Linked DNA regions of Homo sapiens. The protein of the gene in region 5 purifies or fractionates together with the protein of the main gene of each other region. This does not show direct contact. Each region holds a gene or a part of one and is shown on either strand. Other genes may lie near its edges. The genes, in order: ECPAS, TNPO1, TUBGCP2, NT5C3A, UNC93A, BZW2 and ICMT.

The links.
Region 1: the proteins of UNC93A (region 5) and ECPAS purify together in Homo sapiens (affinity purification with mass spectrometry; one large-scale study listed by BioGRID and IntAct). This does not show direct contact.
Region 2: the proteins of UNC93A (region 5) and TNPO1 purify together in Homo sapiens (affinity purification with mass spectrometry; one large-scale study listed by BioGRID and IntAct). This does not show direct contact.
Region 3: the proteins of UNC93A (region 5) and TUBGCP2 purify together in Homo sapiens (affinity purification with mass spectrometry; one large-scale study listed by BioGRID and IntAct). This does not show direct contact.
Region 4: the proteins of UNC93A (region 5) and NT5C3A purify together in Homo sapiens (affinity purification with mass spectrometry; one large-scale study listed by BioGRID and IntAct). This does not show direct contact.
Region 6: the proteins of UNC93A (region 5) and BZW2 purify together in Homo sapiens (affinity purification with mass spectrometry; one large-scale study listed by BioGRID and IntAct). This does not show direct contact.
Region 7: the proteins of UNC93A (region 5) and ICMT purify together in Homo sapiens (affinity purification with mass spectrometry; one large-scale study listed by BioGRID and IntAct). This does not show direct contact.

What each region holds. Positions count from the first base shown.
Region 1 is NC_000009.12:111,372,884-111,376,383, forward strand, and holds part of ECPAS (proteasome adapter and scaffold protein ECM29), read right to left. Parts: intron 2,320-3,500; coding exon 2,230-2,319; intron 1,156-2,229; coding exon 1,089-1,155; intron 524-1,088; coding exon 432-523; intron 354-431; coding exon 287-353; intron 1-286. UniProt on the Homo sapiens protein: Adapter/scaffolding protein that binds to the 26S proteasome, motor proteins and other compartment specific proteins. May couple the proteasome to different compartments including endosome, endoplasmic reticulum and centrosome.
Region 2 is NC_000005.10:72,889,661-72,893,160, reverse strand, and holds part of TNPO1 (transportin-1), read right to left. Parts: intron 3,376-3,500; coding exon 3,204-3,375; intron 1,352-3,203; coding exon 1,265-1,351; intron 23-1,264; coding exon 1-22. UniProt on the Homo sapiens protein: Functions in nuclear protein import as nuclear transport receptor. Serves as receptor for nuclear localization signals (NLS) in cargo substrates.
Region 3 is NC_000010.11:133,278,135-133,281,503, reverse strand, and holds the end of TUBGCP2 (gamma-tubulin complex component 2), read left to right. Parts: intron 1-67; coding exon 68-231; intron 232-1,602; coding exon 1,603-1,738; 3' UTR 1,739-2,869; downstream 2,870-3,369. UniProt on the Homo sapiens protein: Component of the gamma-tubulin ring complex (gTuRC) which mediates microtubule nucleation.
Region 4 is NC_000007.14:33,017,777-33,021,276, reverse strand, and holds part of NT5C3A (cytosolic 5'-nucleotidase 3A), read left to right. Parts: coding exon 1-5; intron 6-1,552; coding exon 1,553-1,642; intron 1,643-3,500. UniProt on the Homo sapiens protein: Nucleotidase which shows specific activity towards cytidine monophosphate (CMP) and 7-methylguanosine monophosphate (m(7)GMP). CMP seems to be the preferred substrate.
Region 5 is NC_000006.12:167,294,315-167,297,814, reverse strand, and holds part of UNC93A (protein unc-93 homolog A), read right to left. Parts: intron 3,299-3,500; coding exon 3,117-3,298; intron 1,784-3,116; coding exon 1,554-1,783; intron 1-1,553.
Region 6 is NC_000007.14:16,701,681-16,705,180, reverse strand, and holds part of BZW2 (eIF5-mimic protein 1), read right to left. Parts: intron 635-3,500; coding exon 512-634; intron 1-511. UniProt on the Homo sapiens protein: Translation initiation regulator which represses non-AUG initiated translation and repeat-associated non-AUG (RAN) initiated translation by acting as a competitive inhibitor of eukaryotic translation initiation factor 5 (EIF5) function.
Region 7 is NC_000001.11:6,225,965-6,229,464, reverse strand, and holds part of ICMT (protein-S-isoprenylcysteine O-methyltransferase), read left to right. Parts: intron 1-3,500. UniProt on the Homo sapiens protein: Catalyzes the post-translational methylation of isoprenylated C-terminal cysteine residues.

The DNA.
Region 1 (3,500 bases), on a different chromosome or scaffold from region 5:
TAACCAGGCGTGGTGGCACGTGCCTGTAGTTCCAGCTACTCAGGAGGCTGAGACACAAGAATCGCTTGAGCCCAGGAGGCTGAGGTTGCAGTGAGCTGAGATAGCACCACTGCACTCCAACCTCAGCGACAAAGCCAGACACCATCTCAAAAAAAAAGAAAAGAAAAGAAACAAATGTTTCTAGCAAATCACATAAAATCATGGAGGGTAAGACCTAATTTGTACTGTTTTACTGGGCTGTTAACATCTAAATTTAAAATGACATAAAATAGAAAAAGAAAGGTACCTTCTTTCTCCATATACCACCCATTGAGCTTCTGCAGGAGTTTTTCAGTGCTGCTATCCCGTGAGGTCTGAAAAAGAAACAATCCTAAGTATTTCTTTATAACTGTCAAAGAGTTTTATTTAACTAAGCAAGAAATTTAACTCACCCGAACTAAATGGCCCATAGCAAATGCACAAGATTTCTGAATCACACTGTTCCGATCTGTCAGGCCACTCAGCAAAGCACTCATAAGTTTACCTACCAGAAATAAAGAGAAAAAAATCTGATACTTGGTTGACCAAATGTTCCACTCTGTTCCCAGAACCCAAACAAACCTAACCCTGTAATTAACATCTGATTTACTCCACAGTAGTTTAGATTTCTGGATGTTATATTTATATATCCATTTGCTTCCTTTTACATGATATAAAGTTAAAATTAAACTAGAATATCGTGGAAAAAGATGCAAAATAAGAACGAGGTATATAAAGAACACTAGTCCAGTCTAGAAGCCAATCTAAGAAGAGAAAAATGCTGATGTAAAATCAGCTATCAATGGTAAGTCCTGTGGAAAAGAGGATACTTTTACCTCCTTATACCACTAAGGAATAATCAAATGTTTATGAACAGTGAAAAGCTGCTAAACTTGATAAACTCTGCACCTCCTGCAGACAAAGAAATGAAGGAGTCAGGGGACTGAGGGGAGAAAAGGCACACAGCATCACAAGCAGGTCTGAATGATAAGTATTTTTCCTTTTTAAAACTCTGTCACACAAGACAGGGCTGTGCAAAAATATCACCACACATCCCTTGACAAACTCACCTGAGTAAGGTGTTAGGTCCTGAGGACACTGAGTAGTTAATGACACAATGACACTGGCACAGCCACCCTACAGGGTTACAAAAGCAAAGGTCTAAATCTGATGGTCACAATGTTCTACCTACCAAACCATTGGCTTAGGTGCCAAAAATTTAAACATATAAAATACATGAAGCCTAATACCCCCTCCAGGACTCAATATAGAAAAAGGCAAACTCTTAAACTAGTAATGCAGCGATTTTTTTTAAACCTCCAAGAGAAAGATGGGTGATCTCAGACATTGTGAAAAAGAAAGAAAACTGGTACAATCTTCTGGAAAAGCAAAATATGTCATCTTGTCCATCACTGTGCTAACATTTCCATTTCCAGAAATTTAACCAAATATCTTCAGGTGTGCCTGAAGACACTCATCACAGTGCTTTACTATTTTTTTCAAAAACTGAAAACAAATCAGATGTTCCTTGATGGAGTAAAATAAATGATGTTACATCCATACAGTGGAGTATCATACGGCCATTAGAAGAGGACACTGCAGAAGATACATGTGCAGAAAAGACTGGAAGGAAACACTTCAAAATATTAACAGCAGTTATCTCTGTATGGCAAAATTCTGGACAATTTTTATTTTAACTTTCTCCTAATCTATAAATGCTAAAATTTTAAAATACCAGCAAGTGTTAATTTTGTCATAAGAAAAAATGTGAGTTATTAATTTGTTGTTAAAAGGGTGGTAGGGGGGTGTCTGATCCTTCAAAGATCTTGAAAACTAGGACATTTTTCTATTCAAACACTGCTGACCCCTCTGTGAAAAATGCAATTGCCACCTAAAACAATCCATGCCCTAATAACTGGATGTGCATTTCCATGAACTGCTAATGAATGACAACCCAGAGGGTATGTACACGGCAACCAGAGAACAGAAATGATTCCACTAAATAAGTTAATACTTACTGGAACAGTTAGATGTTTTATTTCTTGAACCAGTTACATGTTTTCAGTTATCAGTGCAACCACAGAAATAAAATGGTTAGTGTATAATATTAGATTTTGTGGTAAAACATGAATTTCAAACATGATGGCTGTTATATCCTTATGGCCAGAACTAATGAAGATGCACATTTCCTCTTGTGGAAAGTACACTTACCTTAGTTCCAAGACCTACACCACTTCTGATCAGTTCACACAACCTAGGAACTAGCTCGCCCAGCACTGACACATCAAGGTATTGCAGGCACTTTTGAAAAAGGACAAATATAAAGGTAAGCCTTGGCAAATAAGTCAGGACCACATCTTCAATTAAAAACTGCCCTTGTCAAACGTGTACCAACTGGATTTGACATGAAGTTGAAAAATCACTGCTTGCTTCTGCTCTGATTTCAATATTAAAACCACTATTGTACTACAAACAGAAAAATTATTCATCAGTGATTCAACACTAAAAACAAACAAAAAAATGAAAAACATCAATTTGCTAAAAAAGAAAAATAATGATTACTCAAGAATGAAGAATCTTTCTGGGCCTACTTCCTCTTTATCAATCCATGTTTAGTATAAAAAACCTAAACTAAATATTGATCTTCTACAGTGGGCCTACCCTACCAAACCCCCTCTAATGAGTCAACTTCTTAGATGACTTTTCCTATAAATTGCTGGCCTTTATTTTTGAAAATGCAATTAACATGTTTTCTATTACTAATGAATATAACTAAATGGTATTCACTAACTATTCCTATTTCTTTAAATTTTTATTTCCCCCCAATAATCCAACTAAGACATAACATTCTTAGACCAAATTTTGGTAATACTCCCCCAGCAGGCACTAAAAAATAGCTACTTCTCTTCACCAGTTTAACATAGTTTTTTGTACACTTCAGTTTTTTTAGGGGTTGGATCTATACCTTCAGAGTCCTGCTAAAGGTACAGATCTGCTTAGCAAACTAATTTCCAGTAAACACAATCATAGCTAACTAACCATTACAGGGAATGCACAACAGAGTAACTTTACCAAGACTCCAGGAAGTTTAGAAATCAGAACCTCAGAATGCCAAGCAGCCCTTTACTGCAAATGCCTTCCTATGACTAAAACAACATATCGACATTGCCCAATCTCTTCACATACCTTTATGTTACCTACTTCATTAAATACCTCCACAGCTTATAACTTTCCTAGTTCCTCCCAAAGATAACTATTAGGCACAGGCACAACTCTGAACCTTTCTAAATAGGCAGATCAAAAGACTACAGATGTAAATTTATAGAGAGCTCTTGATATGTTGTTGTCTCTTGTAATACAAATTTGGACCAACTGTTTCTGGTATTTGGGGAATTATTTATTCCACTTAGTAACAGAGAAGAAAAGAGAAATATACTAAGAAAAAACTGGAGTCACAACAGCTGCTTGACTCATCCCATAAG
Region 2 (3,500 bases), on a different chromosome or scaffold from region 5:
CTGTGGCAACTGAAGATAGGCACTAGGAAGAATAAAGTACACATGCTAAACTTTCTGGGTATACTGAAGATTATGATGAATGCTTGAAACTGCGCTCAACAGGATCCTGATCATTTATGAGCTTGCTCTACTAGTTTCTACAGTAGCAGGTTCCCCTCCCCCCACCCCAACCCTCTCTTTTGGAAGCCATTCATTGTTGTTAGTTTGCCAGCCAATCAGGTCAGGTTTACTCAGAGGAAGCGTTTCTACAAGAAACATTATCTTTAAAGGACAGATTGAGTATTATGTGTTCATATTTTTCCCTCAAATTGAAGAGATTCATTTCATGCTCCCATCCTGGTCAATGTTGTGAATGGACTTTACTGGGCACATTCTGAGATCCTGCCGGAAAGTAATATATATACAGTTGGCCCTCTGTATCTATGGATTCAACCAATCTTGAATCAAAAGTATTTAGAAAAACAATTAAAATGATTTAAAGTATATTGGGAGGAGGTGCATAGGCCATATGCAAATACCACATCATTTTATATAAGGGACTTGAGCATCGCTGGATTTCTGTATCCAAGGGGAGTCCTGGAAACAATCCCCTGCAGATACTGAGGGACGACTGCATACAAAAAATGAACCATAATGATTCTTCTTGTTTTGCTGGGCCCAGAATTGCTCTTGGTCATAGAAAATTTAACTTCTTTGGCTAAGAACAATCCACGGTAGAAGATGGTGAACCTTGAAATAACAGGGAGCAAGAATGAAAAGGCCTGAACTGGTTCTATCAATGTCAATTCAACTAAGTTTAAGTGACTACATTTCACAGTGTGTTCAGTTACGAGAACATCATATAAAAGTTTGCAATGAAAGGGGTGTTAAAAAAAAAAGTAGTTAAGTACACATGGAAACATTTTCAAATTTGAAAATAAGTACCTCCTTACTGGCACCAAATCCCACTACTCAACATATATGTATGAGTGAAAAGATATATATATATATCCCGGTATATATATCCTCCCAGTATGTTATCTACTCTATACTATATAGAGTAGTATGCTATCTACTCTATATAGAGAGTAGATAACATAAGAGAACTTAAAACTCTAATTTATTATCAATTAAGTAAAGCAGGTTAGAGAACAGTATGTATCATATAATTTCCTCCGTCTACTTCAGAATATAAATTTATTAACACTTTTCTTATCATATATACCCATTTTGGATTTGAACATGTGTTCTTGGCAACAGATTAAATATTACTAGCCCTGCATACCTCAAGTAAAGGGAAGAGATCTTTATCTTCATCCTTTAACATGTTCCATTTCTGGATCAGTGGAGGCATTAGCATCTGAATATATTCCTATTTACAATGATGAAAAACATATAAAATTCCACTATCACATGTCAACAAGACCATTTTGAGTCTTTGAAAATTAAAATCCATTTTGAGCAATTGTGTAAAATCATTACAAAAGGCATTTTAAGAGTCATTCTTCACTCTGCACAGTCCCTTTTAAAGTTTTCCTTTCTGTTGCCTACCTTTATACTTACATGACCGTGTTCTAGTTTTAGATCTAGAACTAGTGATCTACTGATCTTTTATCCTTGTTGAAAAAAAGAGTCTATCAATAAACACACAGCTAATCAAAATCTATTACTTAAAAAAGTCACAATCAAGGAAGATCTAAGTTTTTCTCTTTTTTTTGAGACGGAGTCTTGCTCTGTCGTCCAGGCTAGAGTGCAGCGGCGTGATCTCAGCTCACTGCAAGCTCCGCCTCCCAGGTCCACGCCATTCTCCTGCCTCAGCCTCCCGAGTAGCTGGGACTACAGGCACCCCCCACCACACCCGGCTAATTTTTTGTAGTTTTAAAGAGACAGGGTTTCACCGTGTTAGCCAGGATGGTGTCGATCTCCTGACCTTTTGATCTGCCCACCTCAGCCTCCCAAAGTGCTGGGATTACAGGTGTGAGCCACTGTGCCCAGACCTAAGTTTTTCTCTTTAAGTTACAGAATATTTTTAGTTCTGGGGCTGGGCATGGTGGCTCACACCTGTAATTCCAGCACTTTGAGAGGCTGAGGCAGGCAGATCACTTGAACCCAGGAGTTTGGGCCAGCCTGGGCAACATGGCAAAACTATCTCTACAAAAAGTTGGCCAGGAATGGTGGTACACGCCTGTGGTCTCAGCTACAGGGGAGGCTGAAATGGGAGGATCGCTTGAGCCCGGGAGGTGGAGGTTGCAATGAGCTGTGATCACACCACTGCACTCTAGCCTAGGTGACAGAGTGAGACCTTGTCACACACAAAAAAATTCCTTTTAGTCATGGAACTGTAACGTGTAATATGGCTGTTACTATATAGTACATTTTTAAATCAACAGGTAAACTTACACAGATGCTTTTGTAGAAAAACAAACTTAAAATCATTTAAGTGTCAAACTAAAGAATGATCCATAAAACGACTAAACATAGTGATCATGTAAACAGGGGCACAGACTCTAAAGACATTCAGAAAACAAACCCCCACAAAAGCCAAACCAAACAACCAACAGCAAAGCAAACCTATAAACTGCCCTGTACCAAATCTTAAGTGTAACTTAAAAATAAAACAATTTCTTAAGACTTTGGATATAGCAATCATATAGAAGTCTATTCAGCAGGGTATGTGGAGCTATATTAAAATTCTACTATCACTTAAATCCTCATTAGACAAATCCATCCTCCTCTTCTACTAACACTACTGGAAACAAGGCACTTTTGCATTACTATTTAGCATTTTTAAACCTACTACCCCAATTTCTATTTGTTTTATACAGTATACTCCCCGTACCTGCTGAAAAAACAAAGATGTCTAGATATGGTACTCTAAAGCTACAGTGTTTATGAAGTGGTAGATTCAAAAACATTAGGAATTAAGTAAAAGCAGATATCCAGATTATAAAAACTTTTTTATCCCTTTGCTTTAGTCATTCTAAAAAGTATCAGAGCATTCATGTGAAATGCTGCTGTAGTTTCCACACCAAGTATGTATTTACTTTAAGAATACCACATGAAAGGGGATATACTTGCTGCCTTTGTAAGATCTATACTCTTAAAGTAGCTAACGCTAACTATTCACATCTCCCAAAACATCTTAATTTCCAAATATATGCTAATCTATTAATTGTAACTATGCTACACATTATTTTCCCTAATAGTTCTTAACAGATACTTACTGGTTTGTTTAAATGATGTCCTACTGAATCTGCTAATGTTCCTATGGCATCGTAAAGAATGAGCAGGTTCTTATGCTGGTATTTACTAAATGCAAAGACCAGGGTATCAAGTATATAAGCAAGGTAAGGAACAAGTTCTGTACAAGCCTCCTCTTCTAGGGTAGCAAAGGCACTGTTTAAAAAAAAAAAAAAAGAATACTTATTGACTGTAAGATATATCTAACTCTTAATTGCTAAAATGTTTATGTTCTGTTTTACCCAATCAGGAATTTCCTAAAATGGTCTAAGCCATCTGTT
Region 3 (3,369 bases), on a different chromosome or scaffold from region 5:
CAGTGTGGAGCCAAGAAGGCCCACGGTGGGGGTGGGCATGGCTCACGCACCCCGGCTTTCTTTCCAGCACCTGGCTGAGCACGCAGACACTGTGCAGCTGGTGTCCGGCTTCGAGGCCACCATCAACAAGTTTGACAAGAACTTCTCAGCCCACCTGCTGGACCTCCTGGCCCGGCTGAGCATCTATAGCACCAGTGACTGTGAGCACGGCATGGCCAGCGTCATCTCCAGGTGGGTGGGCGCCACCCCGGCTCAGCCCTTCCTCAGCTCAGTCCAGCGCCTGCCCCTGCCCAGCACCGCCCTGGCTCAGCCCTTCCTCAGCTCAGTCCAGCACCTGCCCCTGCCCAACACCGCCCTGGCCCAGTGCTGTCCCTGCTCAGCCGTCCCCCAGCTCAGCCCAGCACCTGCCCCTGCCCAGCACTGCCCTGGCCCAGTGCTGCCCCGGCTCAGCCTTCCCCCAGCTCAGCCCAGCACCTGCCCCTGCCCAGCACCGCCCTGGCTCAGCCCTTCCTCAGCTCAGTCCAGCACCTGCCCCTGCCCAACACCGCCCTGGCCCAGTGCTGTCCCGGCTCAGCCTTCCCCCAGCTCAGCCCAGCGCCTGCCCCTGCCCAGCACCGCCCTGGCCCAGTGCTGCCCCGGCTCAGCCTTCCCCCAGCTCAGCCCAGCGCCTGCCCCGGCTCAGCCCTTCCTCAGCTCAGCCCAGCATCTGCCCCAGCCCAGCGCCACCCCAGCTCAGCACCTGTCCCTGCATCCAGGCCCCATCTCCCCTGCACCCTCCCCTGGTCCACCTGGTGTAGCCTCCTTCAGAAGGTGGGGCAGGTCTGTGTCCTGGTGCTAGTGCTGGTCATATGCCACTCCCTGAAGTCAGGCTAGCCCAGCTCTCCCTGGGGTGTGACATTCTGTGCAACTGGGCTGCCCCATTGGCACCCTGCGGCTGTGTGTGTCCTGTGGGGCTGATCAGGCCTGGGTCAGCTTCCCTCATGCTGCACTAACACCTAGCCTGGGGGAAAGGGCCAGGTGGCCAAACTGCCAGCCTGGAAGGGGTGGTGCCCTTGGGGGTGCTGTCCTTGGGAAGGTGCCTATTTGTGCTTTTGGACCACCCTGTGCCCTGTGCCCCCCACAAATGTTCTGATTTTCTGAGCAGGGATTTCTGAGGCCACCCTGCATTGAGAACCACTGCTTGGTTCTCCAAGCCCCTGACACCTCAGGCCCCATTGCTAGGCCCTGTTGGGGTGATGGGAGCCCCAACTTTCTGGGGCCAGGAGAGAAGAAACCTGTGTTTGTGCCTTTGAGCAGGACTGAACAGGACTGAAAACCTTCCTGTGGAAACATTAGTTAGGAGCGTGCCTCACCCTCACCCCTGCAGGGCCTCTTATGGTCTCTGTAGCTGAACACTTCCCCATGGTAGGAGCAGGGCTGCTCAGGACGGACCCGCAGAAGGAGTGTGTGCCCCAGCTCCACTGTCCTTCCTCACCCCTGCTGCCCAGCACGCACCCGCAGAAGGGGTGTGCACCCTAGCTGCACCGTCCTTCCACACCCCTGCTGCCCAGCATGCACCCGCAGAAGGGGTGTGCACCCCAGCTCCACTGTCCTTCCTCACAGGCTTGACTTCAATGGTTTCTACACGGAGCGCCTGGAGCGCCTGTCTGCAGAGAGGAGCCAGAAGGCCACCCCCCAAGTGCCTGTCCTGCGGGGGCCCCCGGCTCCTGCACCCAGGGTCGCAGTCACCGCACAGTGAGCCCTGGCTGTGACAGGAAGGAAGGGTGTGGGGTCAGCAGGGACTGGTGCAAATGGGTCCAGAATTTTCAAATCGAATGCTCTGTGTTCTGTCTTTGCAGTTTAAATATAAAGCAGGAATGATTGACTCAGCTCACTTTGTTTCTCAAGGCGCTGGGTTTCGTTTTATAGAAGCTGCCCAGGCAGGGTGGATGTCTCCCTGGATTTGCTAATCTGTTTGCTTTTTGAAATTACACTATCACCTTTTTGGGTGTTTTTGGCCTCAAAGTGGAAATACATGGTGTTTAAGCCAGGAGCAAGCAAAGATGCATGTGGGGTAAGATCCAGGCCTGGTGTCCACATCTTTCCGGGTGAGCTGGGGCCGGGCTTCCTGAGGTCTGTCGGAACCGGGACAAGCCTCTGGAAACGGTCAGGGAGTTGTGGAAACCCACCGGGCATCGGGTGTCGGGTTTGCTTTGGCCCCAGAGGCAGCCCCGTTCCTTCTCCTGAGGACTCACCCGCCTCCACGACCCTCCTCCTGCTGCTGCTCCAACTGGTCCAGGGCAGGAGGCCACAGACAGGGCCCTCAGGCACCCTGGGAGCCCACACCTCCCCCTCCGTGGGAGTGGGTCGAGGGGCAGGCTCTGCTGCTGGCTGGAAACCCCACCCCGCCCTATCCGGTACCGCCTTGTTACGTAGAACTTACTCAGCAGACTGACACCCAATCCCCCTCGGGCGATCATCTGCCCTGTCTTCCCACCTCCAGGGCTACAGTGGGCAGCACCGCCATCCCCAGTGTGACAGGGCCCTGGGAGCCTCAGGGCTGCCCGGCCAGGTTGGTCTGCTCTGGTTACATTCTGGCCAAGCTGCCCCTTCCTGCTGACCTGCATGTGTATTGTTGTCACCTTCAGCTCTCAGCACCTCGGCCCCCTTGGGCAGTGAGGAAGGGCCCTGGAGGCGAGGTTGGGAGAAAGGATAGCTAGAACAGGATCCTGCGGGGAACAAGGGTTGTGGGCAGCTCTCACCCGGGGCTGCCTCACTGAGAGCACCGCCGAGTGGGGGTGGGGGTGTCCAACTCTCCAGCCACAAACCGCTTCCTCCTTGTCTGCAGGCTGTGCAGGTCTGGCCTGTGAGTAAACACATTTATCAGCAACCCAAGCTGTCAGTCTCAGTGTTGTGCAAATGCCGGACTGGTGAGCAGAGGAGCCTGCTAGCTTTCCTGCCTGGCCCCGAGGCCCAGAAACCCCTGATCTTGTGTCCTGGGGTCTGGGAAGCCCTGGGCCTTGAGAAGTGGGGTTTGCAGGTGGTGATAGGAGGAGGGGAGGGAAGCCTCCAGGGCTGTGGGGTTCAGGCTCCCAGACCCCCCGGCACCTGCTGAAGAGGAGAGCTGTGTTCTGTGGGATTGGGTGGAACTTCCTCAGCGCGGGAGGAGCCTGTTCTGGCCCAAGCTGGTCCTGTCTTTTTAGGAATAAATCCCTGGTAGCTCAGCGTCGGCAGGGGCCTTGCTGTGCCTCTGATGTGGCCAGCGTGCCGCCTTTGCACTTTGCTGTTGAGTAACTTGCACCATGAGGTCAAGGAAGGGAAGTGTGATTGCCAGCTGGCCATTGTTCTATAATAACAGGGTCACCTGCATGAGCTCAGGCACAGGCCAGT
Region 4 (3,500 bases), on a different chromosome or scaffold from region 5:
GAATGGTAAGTGTATATTAGGCAGTAGGAGGATTAAAAAAAAATAATAAAACAACACTGCAGTTACAACTGATGGCTTATTTTTTACCTGTATTGCAAACAAACAGATTAATAAATTATGCAAGTTAGAGCATTGAATAACAAAATGAGCTCTAATTATCTAATCTCTCTAACAGTTTAGGAATCCTTTTGTTTTGTTTATTTAAGGTGAAGTCCAGTAGGAATAAATTAAAAGTCCTGCATTTAAGTCTCAAATTAAAAACAAGAATTTTTTTTTAAGTATATGAACAAAACGTGGCTTAATGTGTAAAGAAAAGGTATGAGGATTTAAACTGAGTCTGAACTCAGAGCCAGCAGGTGATATGGTTACCCAAAAATCGACCTTTGGTTGCATTAATCAAAATGCAGTGTTCCAGGCAGATCACACTGAAAGCACTGTGTCGGATTCTGGAAGAATGCTGTTAAGAGAAACCATGACAATAGTGACCAAAAAAAAAAAAAATAGATCATGACAAACTTAAAAGGAGTCAGAGTAGTCCACCAGAATGATCAGAGGAATTTGAGCCTTCCCACTTGACGAACATTTCAAGGAATAGAAAATGCTTTGATTTGAGAAGGAACAACTTGTTTTAAAATCTTAGGAGACCAGGAATGATTTGTCTTTATTGTCCCGTTACGTAACAGTTGCATACTTCATCTGTATTTGTGGTACTAAATGTTGAAAAGATATTAGACTTAACTCTACAAACTGGTAGCAGCAGAACTGGAACTAGACTTGGAAGATATAAGAAGATTGATTTCAGCATGAGAAATGAAAAGCCTGTCTAGCAATTAAGAGTTTTCTGGCAATGGAATAAGCTTCCCTGGGAGAATGAGCTTACTGACATGTTAGAAGCTGACCCAGGCAGGGAAGAAGGTGACTTAGGAATATTATAGGGGTATTTTTAGGTATCAGATGAAGAGTTAGGCTTTTTTTTCTTTTCGTTTCTTTCTTTCTGTTTTTAGTGGCTGTTTGCATAATTGTAATGGGTTAGAGAGTCTAAGGGCCCTTTATACTGAGATGCTATGATTATAGGTGTTTTCTACATAAAGCAGGCTAATCTGTATATGACACTTGCCATAACAAAGATTTTCTCTCTTGTTCACTAAGTAGCATCTTCAGTATGTAGAAAATTCAAACTACAAACAAATTTTAAAAATGGGGTTGCTCTAATTCATTTTACTGCAATCAGAGAAAGGATTATGCTTCCATAGGTTGGGTTGAGTTTTTATGTGTAGAATTAGGAAAGGTTTATAGCTAGTTTCCTTTCATTACCTTACTAACATATTTAAGCTAAGTCTGGGTTTGGGAGGACTGGGAAACTCAGTAAGAACATGCATATCACATTTTGAGACATGAGGTATACATTCATTAGTGATGAACTTCAATCTCTAAAATTTAAATCCAAATATGAGGAACAGATTTTCTCACATGGAAGAATGTTTTGTAATAAAGATAATAATTTTAGTTTGTCTTAATTGATAGTCTTTTTTCCTTTGGTCATAAACTCCAGGTATACTAAATCACATGGTTTGCTTGTTCAGCAAGCTTTACCAAAAGCTAAACTTAAAGAAATTGTGGCAGAATCTGACGTTATGCTCAAGTAAGTTTCTTGGATGTTTTTTGCTGTTATTGTTCACAGACTTGAATTATTGCTATTTATGTAGTCAGTTGTACTTTTTAAAAATAAGATTGAATATTCCTTATATAACCATATCCAAAATATGCCACCTATCACAAAATACATAGTGGTAAGATAAGGAATTTAGAATGACGTATTAGATCTTGGTGTAGGTAGTAAGAGCCTTATGAGATTTAAATTCTAATTTGTATTTTGTTTCTCCAGATTAAAAATGTCAAGACTTAAAATTTTTGAACCAAGGCCATTTAAAAATTTTTTAGCAAAATACTTAGGAAAGACATATGAAAGGAATGTATAAATCAAGTTAAAAGGGATTTAAGTATACTTTTTTTTTTTTTTAAAGACAGGGTCTCTCTCTGTTGCCCAGGTTAGAGTGTAGTGACATAATCTCTTCCTCAGTTCAACCTCTGCCTCCTGGGCTCAAGCGATCCCCTTGCCTCAGCCTCTCAAGTAGCTGGGACTACAGTCATGCACCACCATGCCTGGCTAATTTTTGTATATTTTTGTAAAGATGGGATTTCACCATGTTGCCCAGACTGGTCTTGAACTCTTGAGCTCAAGCGATCCCAAAGTGCTGGGATTATATGTGTGAGCCACCATGCCTGGCAGTATACTATGTCTAAATTTACATAAGCCTACTTTTTAAATTCTCGAACTTCTTTGAAAACTATTCCTAGGAAAGATTAGTATGTTTTAGTACATAATTATATATGTATGCATGAGTTATAAGATACAAGAAGCTTTTTTTTTTCTTTTTTTTTTGAGATGGAGTCTCGCTCTGTCACCCAGGCTGGAGTGCAGTGGTGTAAGCTCCGCCTCCCAGGTTCACGCCATTCTCCTGCCTCAGTCTCCTGACTAGCCAGGACTTCAGGCGCCCGCCACCACGCCCGGCTAATTTTTTGTATTTTTAGTAGAGACGGGGTTTCACCGAGTTAGCCAGGATGGTCTCGATCTCCTGACCTTGTGATCTGCGCATCTCCGCCTCCCAAAGTGCTGGGGTTACAGGCGTGAGCCACTGCGCCCGGCCCAAGAGCCTGTTTAATACTGTTTATTACCTCGTAAAATTTTCAACTCATTAGGCAAATATGATGATGTTACTTTTTTATGATGATGTTATATTTTAAGGTGATTACTTCTAAAAAGGAAAGCAATAAATTGTCAGAAAAAGTGTGAGGACAGCTAGTAAGTGTTTCATTCCTTAGTAGGCAACATTAGCATTCTTTAACCTATGGCCCAGGAAGGGTAAAAAAGGGAAGAGGGCTTAAGATCTTAGTAAAGACACATGCCAGATGTCGAGAATACATCTAAGTTCCTGCCACTCTGCTTTTCTTTTCAATTTTATGGATTTTGATGAAACTGTAAGAATATCAAGTCATTCTTCATAATTTTAAAATCTGAAAATATTTTAATCATGTAAATGTATTTGTTGTTGGTCAATATATATCCATTAAGTTAGGCCAAGTTGATAGGCCCACTATGGGACTCCATCCTTCTCAGTGTTAATATATCCATGTTTTAACCCCTAAGTGGGGTTTTCAAGGTGTAGCTTAACTATTGTTTTCTCTTTTTAAATTTCATTTTAGAGACAGGGTCTCGCTATGTTGCCCAGAGTGGACTAGAACTCCTGGGCTCAAGCAATCCTCAAGCCTCAGCCTCCCAAATAGCTGGGACTATAGGCATGCACTGCTATGCCTGCCTATTTCTTTTTAAATGGTATAAATTGTGAACTGTAGGTTTATATTCATATTCAGTGAAAGCTTAAAGACATCTAGTTTGTAGTATTAGAATTGATTAAAGGGAAAGTAAAGAGTTAACTGTT
Region 5 (3,500 bases):
GAAAGACCCAGTGTCTCAAAATAGATTTAGATCGAGTCTAGGCACATGTCCCTAGACTCGATTTAAGACACTTTGGGAGGTGGAAAATCCTATTCGTGTTCTGCAAAGATTCAGGGAAGAATGAACTTGGAAAAGTGCTGGTTACTTGTTTTACTGCTTTTCTGACATAATTAAAATTTTTCAAGTTTTCAAAATTAGTCAAAAAGAAAAAAGTACATGAGATTGGGTGCCAGGAATGCTGGATTCTCTTTCAGATTCATCTGTTACCAACTCAATGACTTTGGGCAGGTGATTTCATAACTTTTCTGTTTTTGAAAACTAACGTTAGTTCTGTGATCTCTTAGAAAAATACAATTTGAATTAGCAATGACTCTCAGTCAGAAGTCCTGTCAGAATCTCTGGGGAAAGGAGAAAGATGTGGTGGGAGAAAGAATATTCAGTGTTTTTATTATTTTAATAACACAAATTATATAACAGACAGCTTCACAAAATCTTCTAGGTGGGTGAGATGTGCAGCTGATAAGAGAAGGTACAAGAAGGTGGAGAAGCACACGACGCCCTCCAAATCCCTCCAGCCCCAGATTCTGTGTCCTGTGCTGACTTGGAGAACTAACTCACCTGCAGAAAGGTCTTCGAAAGAAATGCCTGTTCCTCCACTTCACTGGCCGTGATATGCAGACTGAGCTGTAACCCCAGTTTCTGTTTCATTGTTGCTGACACCAACAGCAATAATGAGTAAAAATTGCTATGCATCACCTTCACGGCTTCCCTTCTTCAAATGCACTTAGCAGGCATGACATCGCATGAGAAAAAGGGAGAGGGGTTTTGGCTACAGAGTTTACCAAGCGTGGGATTTTTATGGGATAGCAAGATGGAGAACCTTGATGAAGTGATAGAAATAGTTGTGATACTAGTCAGGAGGGCTGGATTGGTTTTTACCCCGTTGGGAAAGTTTTCCTGTAAGCATGAAAGAGATGTATGTCCTCTGCCCTGTGCTTAAAGCCTCAACGTGGGCACTAAGGTCATGGGCACAAATGAGATATGCACTTTATATTTATACCAGGGCAAGGTCGGGTAGAGACAGAGGAGCCAGGGCATCAGCCCATCCAATGTCCACATCTGTCATGGGATAAGGGGCCTGTCATAAAACATTTGAAAATCTGGTCATTGTATCAAGTCACAGGGAAAAGAAATCAGGCAACCCCATCCTTAGTCTAAAAAGGACAGTTGTGCAGTTGAGACTCCATGAACACAAATTCTACTGGCGTGGCCCTCAGTTTCCCATGGCGCCCTCTCCCAAGGGCTCCCCTGCCCCTGCGGAGGCACCTGTGGAAGACGCAGATCTTCTTCAGTCCCACCCGACTGTCCAGAAGACAGCAGGTAACAGGCAACTCTGAAGCACAGGCAGGTTGAGAATCTCACCTGTGGGGCCTGACTCACCTGCTCAAGTTACAGAATCAAGGCAGGTGTGCAACTGAAATCAGGAACCCTCTCCCCCATCACTGAAACCCCTGCTCCACTTGGAGACAATTGCTTGCCCCTTTTCCTTTTACCTTGGCTGGGAGTCTGGCCAAATACCAGCGATGAGATCAAGTTGCCCCACACACCGGATGACTGGAATATGAGGAAGAAGATGCCAAAATACTGGTTCACCATGTCTTTGCCACGCTTTCCCGCCTTCTCTGCATGTGTGTTTCCCGTGATCGTGAGGTATGTGCACTGTGCAGACCACAGCGGGGCGGCCCCGAGTCCCAGCAGTATGGAGGTGGGGATCAAAGTGTACCTGTGGGTAAAATGCAGACCCATAGCCTGTAACAGGAGACGCAAGCCCATTGCACCCATGTCCCTGCAGTTCTTTAGTCAATCTGGGAGAAGGAACCACCGCCTGGCCCATTGCAAGCGTGGTGATGAGTGTTGCTGGTTGGATGGATGGATTCACCATTACACTCAGAAAAATGAGCAATATCAGTGCATTTCCTAGCTTGGACTGATTTGCAAAAGTGAAATTGAAGCCAGTGAGGCTCCTTGTATCGGATGCGATTGCAAACAACAAGGTGAGGAGCACGAGGGAGGCGAGGAGCACGAGGAAGGCGAGGAGCACGAGGGAGGCGAGGAGCACGAGGCAGGCGAGGAGCACGAGGCAGGCGAGGATCACGAGGGAGGCGAGGAGCACGAGGCAGGCGAGGAGCACGAGGGAGGCGAGGAGCACGAGGGAGGCGAGGAGCACGAGGCAGGCGAGGATCACGAGGGAGGCGAGGAGCACGAGGGAGGCGAGGAGCACGAGGCAGGCGAGGAGCACGAGGCAGGCGAGGATCACGAGGGAGGCGAGGTTCACGAGGGAGGCGAGGAGCACGAGGGAGGCGAGGAGCACGAGGGAGGCCGAGGATCACGAGGGAGGCGAGGAGCACGAGGGAGGCGAGGAGCACGAGGGAGGCCGAGGGACAGCCCCGGTTAAAAAGACCTAGTGACCGGCTCGGGCCTCAGCGGCGGCATGCCATGTAAGACTCTGCAGCTACCGGGAAGAAGGACTTGCAGCCATCATCAGCAGCATGTCCTGGCACAACCAGGGTCCCTGGAAGAGATGCTCCATGGCTGTGTTCCCGGGGCCTGGGGTGCAGGCCAAAGCCCTCAGAGCTCAGTCTCTGTGGTCCATCTCACCAGGGAGCAGGGTGGCCTCCCATCCCTGTGACCTGCCCTGGCCATACCCACCTCCTAATGGTGGGCGAGGTGCAGCTTTCGGTCCATTGGTGACATCTGCCTAGGTGCCCACGAGACTCACCATCTGCATTGCAGTTAGAGTCCCCTGTGTTACTGGAACCCTCGCCCAGCCAGGGGAGCTGAGGACCAGGACGGATCCCAGGGAGAGGCCAGCATCGGGGATCGGGAGGAGGAGACAGAAGCAGTGGGGGGCACAGAGGAGCCTTGGTGGGAAAACAGGAAGGAAGCCCAGCACCGTCTGTCACCAAAGCGAGGCGGGGGTGCAGGGGCAGGAGAGCTCATTTTAAAATGCCTGCAGTGAACAGTAATCAGGTGCAAATGCAACTCATGTGCAGAGTGAACGTCCCTAGCGTGGGGAACGGCCGGGGTGGGGTGGGCAGGGGGTGGTGGCTGCGTACCAGCTGGCGAAGAAGTTGCCCACGGAGAAGGCCACGTAGCCACACATGGAGAGGATGATGGTCCCCTTGCAGCCCAGCCTCTCGATGAGGAGCGGTGGGAGGAACATGGAGGACAGGAGCATGCCTCCATAGAGGGTGCTGAGCGCTGTGACACCCAGGCCCTCCTCGCTGTACAGGCTGCTCTGTGGGAACAAAGCCAGCCCTGTCAGAGCACAGGATGGACACAGCGGGATGAGGCACCAGCAGGTCCTCAGTGTCCCCCAGGCTGGAGGCCGCCACAGCTCCCAGGAACCGCCAGCCACAGGCTTGCTGCCCTGGGAGCCTCCTCTGAAGCTGGTGGGAGAAAAGTGCAGGTGAATTCGGAATAAAGCAGTTAGTGTGTCT
Region 6 (3,500 bases), on a different chromosome or scaffold from region 5:
TTCACTATGTTGGCCAGCCTGCTCTCAAACTCCTGACCTCAGGTGATCCACCCACCTCTGCTTCCCAAAGTGCTGGGATTACAGGTGTGAGCCACCACACCTGGCCTGAATTCACTCTTACTCATTATTATCCTTCCACTTTATATTTCCATTATTTAAAATTGCCAGTTAATTGGTAAAGGTGTCATAAAAATCTATAGAATTCCATAATGCGTGATTAAGCTAAATGTATTTTTCTCCTTTCACATCTACTAATCATTTCTTCCTTATTGTCCTCCATCAGAGTGGATAATTTAAGCATTTCATTTCTTTCTTTGTTTTTACATGTAGAGATTTTTATTGCCGTGATTTCAGAAAGGAAAGCTAAGATGTTGGCAAAATGTTTGATACGAAAGATAACTCTAGAATTTTAGTTTTAGAAAATCAAGTAAAATCTGTGGAAGAGGTAAATATTTTGACATATAATGAGACAGTGTTTAAAGGTCATCAATGTTTGTAAACAGAATCATACCTTCTTCTGCATTTTGTAACCACTCAACAAATTTCTTCATCTGGTCAAGAAAAACACTTTTGCCTTTAGCAACATGTGCTTCCTTATACCATTTCAGTATTGCTTCTTCGCTCAGAACATCAGCTGCAATTTTAAATCAAAGATTTCAAAGTTACTATACAAATGTCATGTTTCAAAACAACTTCATGTATTACAGTTTAATAGAAAGCAATCATTTTAAATATAAAGCATTCTGTTACTTATCAGAAGAGAGGAACCAAGTTGATTTTCATGTAGCATAGTGCCATATTTTGATAGCTTACTAAAGGCTTAAGTACTGATGATGATGATATACATCTTCTTAGGCATGATATAATGCAAGCCTATAGCTCACTACTAGGACTTGGAAATCTCTCACAGTGCTAATTTGCTGGTAGGAAATAGAATTGTTTTGTAATTTTGCAAATGAACCAGCAATTCCAGCATTTTAGAACATTTTGGGTCCTGCCAAGTTCAACCATATCTTGATTAAAGAGTAACCTCAAATGACCAGTGTCTTTTAAGGAGATTGGGATTTTCTTTTTTTAGGAGAAAAATGACAAAGGAAAAAAATGTAGATAGTATGCAATAATGATGTTAGCAATTAGATATAAAGAGGAACTTCTGGGCTATGTTGTGGGAGTAATACACACCTAAACTGAAGTTCTACACTTTCTCCATCACTAAATCACGACTTATTTTCCCACAGTATATCCCAAATTACAAGAGTAATATTTTTCCTCTACTACATTAAGACAAAATAGACATATTAGCTAATTTCCTACAGGTTTCTAAAAACAACAAAAAATGTTAACTATCTTTTGTCTAAAACTCTAAATTCCACAAATGTGCCTTGATATTCTCAACATAACATTAATTGAGAGTATTTAATGTTAAGAATAGGAAGGAGAATATAAAAATAAGTGTACATAGTCTCCCAATGTTCTAATGGGTTGTTCTAACATTCTTCTAATGTTCCAATGTTCTAATGGGTTGTTGTTTGGGAATCTGTAGTGGGAAACGAGACAGAAAACAGGTACAAAGCATTTATTATTGTCCCCGAGATGTGCTCAATTCATTACAAATACTGATAAAGCCATATAATGTTAATAAATTACTTTAATGATATCTTTTCAGTTAAAATATAATTTCAACTTATGAAAATGACAGAAACAATTTAATATTGTTTTCATTTAAAACATCACTGGTAGTTTCATAACAAAAACATTGGCTTTTTTTATTTTTAAAGAATTATTGGCTCTTGGAAAATGTTCTTGAATTAAATTGAAGAGGCTGAGCTGACTAAAATGAACATGATTTGTTTATGAAAATAAAAGGTTTTTTAAAAAAACATGTTTATTATCATCACTAAAAACATTACATTTTGCAAAGGAAGCAAGAAGTCTGGATTTACTTATAGAGCCTGGATGTAAGAGCTACAATCAGGGGTCCTGTAGACTTATTCTTAGCTTCTAGTTATTTTAGCTCTTTGTTTCCAGCTCTCCACTGAGATAAAAGAAATTTCTACCAGCCATCAGAGCCTAATTGTCATAGAGCTGAGGAGCAGGCAGTTGTGTCCCGAGGAAGTGACCTGTTATTGTGTAAGACTGCCTTGCAGAGACTTTTAAAGAACATTAACAGGGATTTTAAAAGACCCTTTTATATAACTTGTAAATTATCTTTAAGATGCTTATGATTAGATCAGTAATTATCAAACTGTTTGGATCATGTCTTCCTGCCTGTAGGATAATTTTGAGCATATACACCCAACATATGTATATTTTTGAGTTTATAAATTATATTCATGCACTATTAAACTATCATTATTAATGTTCTGCACAAACAATATAATTTTAAACTGTGACAAACATGGAAAGGAGAATTGTTTTTTTTCTCCACACCTTAATGAATTGAGGATGATACAAAGTACAGGTTGGAAAGCTGATGTAGACTGCAGTTTAGTGATACTATTTGTCTGAGCTTTCCTTTTGAAGGTTGAGAGCACATTCCTGTGTTTTATTGCCTCACAGAGGCTGAAGGAGACCATGCAACTACTAAAATGCTTGTCAATGTCAGTGCTTGTGAAAAGCACACTAAATGATAGGTAAAACCTATCAAATGCATTGTTTATTGCAAATCTTGTGCCTTGATATTCTTAAGTTACCATTAATTGAGAATATTTAATGTTAAGAATAGGAAGGAGAATTTAAAATAAGTCTACATATTAACGGCGCAATGTGGAGTTCTTAGAAGAACCCAGGGTAGTAACAACTACTTGCTGAAAGATCAAACTTCTAGTACCAGAGAATTATTAATTAAAAGCTACTGAAGTATCTACACAGAGCACCATATGAGGCAAAGTATGAACATCGAAGAGTTTAAGAAGAAATTAAACTTCTATTTAGTGAAAGGAAAGGTCTGAAAAGGAAGGAACTCCTTGAGGGACAAAGAATTCAGACAATTTTTTCCCTCACTAAGGATAAAGTAGGGAAAAGAGTTAATTAAAACTGAGAAACCATTTTTGGTGGGATATTTCATAAATGCCTATTAGGAATATAGAATAACAGTAAAAGACAGTAAGAAAGGAAGACATTGTATGATGGCACATAGAGACTGGAATATATGTTTTCCCCTTCTATCTGGCCAACTTCTTCATAATGTCTGGTGAGATACATGTACCTTGAGAGCCTTCACTTCTCCCCCTCCAAATTACCTTTAACAAGTTAGGTGCCCTCCCTCTGTGGTCCTATCCCTTCTGACACCCTCTGTGTGAGGCTTATTTCAGCAATTGACATGGTGAGTGTAATTCTTTGTTTTCTTCTACATCCTGAAATTCAGGAAGTCAGGGACTATATTTTGTTCATCTCATTTCCAGCATTTAATGAAAGACCTGCCCTATAGTATCGATTCAACACACGTTTAAGGAATAAATTTGTTAACTTGATGAGAAAAAATAAATATTTCTCAATTT
Region 7 (3,500 bases), on a different chromosome or scaffold from region 5:
CTCTTGTTGCCCAGGCTGGAGTGCAATCATGTGATCTCAGCTCACTGCAACCTCTGCCTCCCGGGTTCAAGCGATTCTCCTGCCTCAGCCTCCTGAGTAGCTGGGATTACAGGCATGCGCCACCATACCCGGCTAATTTTGTATTTTTAGTAGAGACGGGGTTTCTCCATGTTGGTCAGGCTGTTCTCGAACTCCCAACCTCAGGTGATCTGCCTGCCTTGGCCTCCCAAAGCGTTGGGATTACAGACATGAGCCACCATGCCCAGCCCCTGGCTAATTTTTGTATTTTTGTAGAGACGGGGTTTTTCCATGTTGCCTAGGCTGGCCTCGAACTCCTGCGGTTGAGTGATCTACCCGCCTCGGCCTCTCAAAGTGCTGGGATTACAGGCGTGAGCCACCACATGTATTTCTTTTTCTTTCTTTTTTTTTTTTGAGACAGAGTCTCACTTTGTCGCCCAGGCTGGAGTGCAGTGGTGCGATCTTGGCTCACTGCAACCTCCACCTCCCGGGTTCAAGTGAGTCTCCTGCCTCAGCCCCCGCGAGTAGCTGGGATTACAGTTGTGCACTACCTCGCCCAGCTAATTTTTTGTATTTTTAGTAGGTTTAGTAGGGGTTTCACTGTGTTGGCCAGGCGGTTCTCAAACTCCTGACCTCAGATGATCCACCCGCTTCAGCCTCCCAAAGTGCTGGGATTACAGGCGTGAGCCACTGCATCCAACCCGCATATTTCTTTTTTAAAATTACTATTTGGCTAGGCACAGTGGCTTTGGGAGACCAGAGCAGGAGGATTGCTTGAGGCCAGGAATTAGAAACCAGCTTGGCTGGCCGGGCATGGTGGCTCATGCCTGTAATCCCAGCACTTTGGGAGGCTGAGGCAGGCAGATCATGAGGTCAGGAGATCAAGACCATCCTGGCTAACACAGTGAAGCCTCATCTCTACTAAAAATACAAACAATTAGCCTGGTGTGGTGGCACGCATCTGTAGTCCCAGCTACTTGGGAGGCTGAGGCAGGAGAATGGCGTGAACCCGGGAGGCGGAGCTTGCAGTGAGCCGAGATCGCGCCACCGTACTCCAGCCTGGGCGACAGAGCGAGACTCCATCTCAAAAAAAAAAAAGAAAAAGAAACCAGCTTGGCCAACATAGTGAGAACCCTTCTCTCCAGAGGAAAAAACTAAAAATATATCTGGAAGTTGTAGTGTGCACCTGTAGTCCCAGCTACTCAGGAGGCTGAGGCAGGAGGATCGCTTTGATTGCTGCTGTACTCCAGTCTGGGCAACAGAGTGAGACCCTGTCTTAAAAACAGAAAACAAAATTATTTATTTGTGTATTAAAGATGAGATCTCGCTGTGTTGCCCAAGCTAGTCTCAAACTCCTGGGTTCCAGCAGACCTTCTGCTTTTGTCTCCTGAGTAGCTGGGACTATAAGTGTGCACCACCATGCCCAGCTAACTTTTTGTTTTTTGTAGAGATGGGGTCTTAGTGTTGCCCAGGCAGATTTTGAACTCCTGGGCTCAAGCAGTCCTCTCACTGCAGCCTCTCAAAATGCTGGGATTACAGGCATGATCCACCATGCCCAACCCAAAGCCTTATTTCTTTTTTTTTTCTTTTTGAGACAGAGTCTCGCTCTGTCGCCCAGGCTGGAGTGCAGTGGCGCAATCTCGGCTCACTGCAAGCTCCGCCTCCTGGGTTCACGCCATTCTCCTGCCTCAGCCTCCTGAGTAGCTGGGACTACAGGCGCCCGCCACCATGCCTGGCTAAATTTTTTGTATTTTTAGTAGAGACGGGGTTTCACTGTGTTAGCCAGGATGATCTCAATCTCCTGACCTCATGATCCACTTGCCTCAGTCTCCCAAAGTGCTGGGATTACAGGCGTGAGCCATCGCGCCTGGCCGCCTTATTTCTTGAAACTGTTTCTTGATTCTTTACTCTTGGTCCTAGAAAAACTTGGCCAAAGAATGTGAATAGATCTTGGAAAATTCACGAAGTGTTTGGGAAAAGTCTCCAAGTCTTTGGGCAAATCCAGAGATCTCTCAGGCATCCCATCAGCAATGCATGGTCCTTGGTGACTCTGGTGACCCCTAACGGTATAGGTGGGGCAAATGATCACATAGCATTTACAATTTTTGTTTCTGAAACATGTAAAACCGCCACATTAACAATCACCTTCCCTGGGAACAAATTAGTTATGACTGAATAATGTAATTTGCCATAAATGCTTGCTTCCTGTATATGTGTGTGCACTAGAACCAAAGGGTTTTCCATACCTTTTTGCCCATAGATTTTTTTTACATTGTGCTCCAGCACTTGTGTGTGTATGAAAGGAACATGTCTTTCCTGATATAATACTTACACTTACTGTTTACAAAATCCTGTTTTCTATCTTATTATTTCAATACTGTTCATAATGTACTAAATGATTTCATGGCTTAGTAACAGGCTGCAGCCTGCTATAGAGAACTCCCACTGTAGGGTATCCCCAGCAAGCTATGCCAGATGTGAGGGTACAGGCCCCGGAGTCACTGACTGGGCCAGTCCTGATTCTGACATTCACTGCTTGGCCTCCTTCTCCTCTCATGTTAAAGTGGGGGCAGCTAGACATAGTGGCACATGCCTGTAGTTCCCCCTACTCTGGAAGCTGAGGCAGGAGGATGGCTTGAGGCCAAGAGTTCAAGTCCAGCCTGGGCAATATAGTGAGACCCTGTCTTTAAAAAATAATAAAATTTTAAAAAAAACAAAGTGGGGATAGTAGCGTGCCCTCAAAGGTTTGCCATGAGAGTTGAACAGGGTAATGATTGTAAAGGGCTTAGCATGGCGCTGGGAACATAGTAAGTGCTCAATAAGAGAAGGTGTGAGAGGTCAGGACATGAGCCTGGCTCTCCGGGTGGCTGTATTGGAGCCTAAAATATATATTCAGAAAACATACAGAAAATGTATGTTGGGGAAGATGCACATCCACAGGGGACCAGTGGGCAGGTGTAGGTGAGTGGTTCCCTGAGGAGCTGGGGAATGCTTTTGGCCTTGAAGGACTGTTTGGCTGGAGATCAGTGGGAAGGATGTTCTTTGTTTTTTTTGAGAGGGAGTTTCGCTCTGTCGCCCAGGCTGGTATGCAGTGGCGATCTCAGCTCACTGCAACCTCTGCCTCCTGGGTTCAAGCAATTCTCCTGCCTCAGCCTCCCAAGTAGCTGGGATTACAGGCTCCCACCACTACGCCCAGCTAATTTTTCTATTTTTGGTAGAGACGGGGATTCGCCATGTTGGCCAAGCTTGTCTCAAGCTCCTGACCTCAGGTGATCTGCCCTCCTTGGCCTCCCAAAGTACTGCAATTAACAGACATGAGCCACCGTACCTGGCCAGGATGTTCTTAAAGGTGGAAGAAAGGGCCAGGAGTTCGAGACCAGCTTGGGCAACATTGTGAAACCCCATCTCTACAAAAAATACAAAAATTAGCTGGGTGTGGTGGCATGTGCCCTTAGTCCCAGCTACTTGGGAGGCTGAGGTGG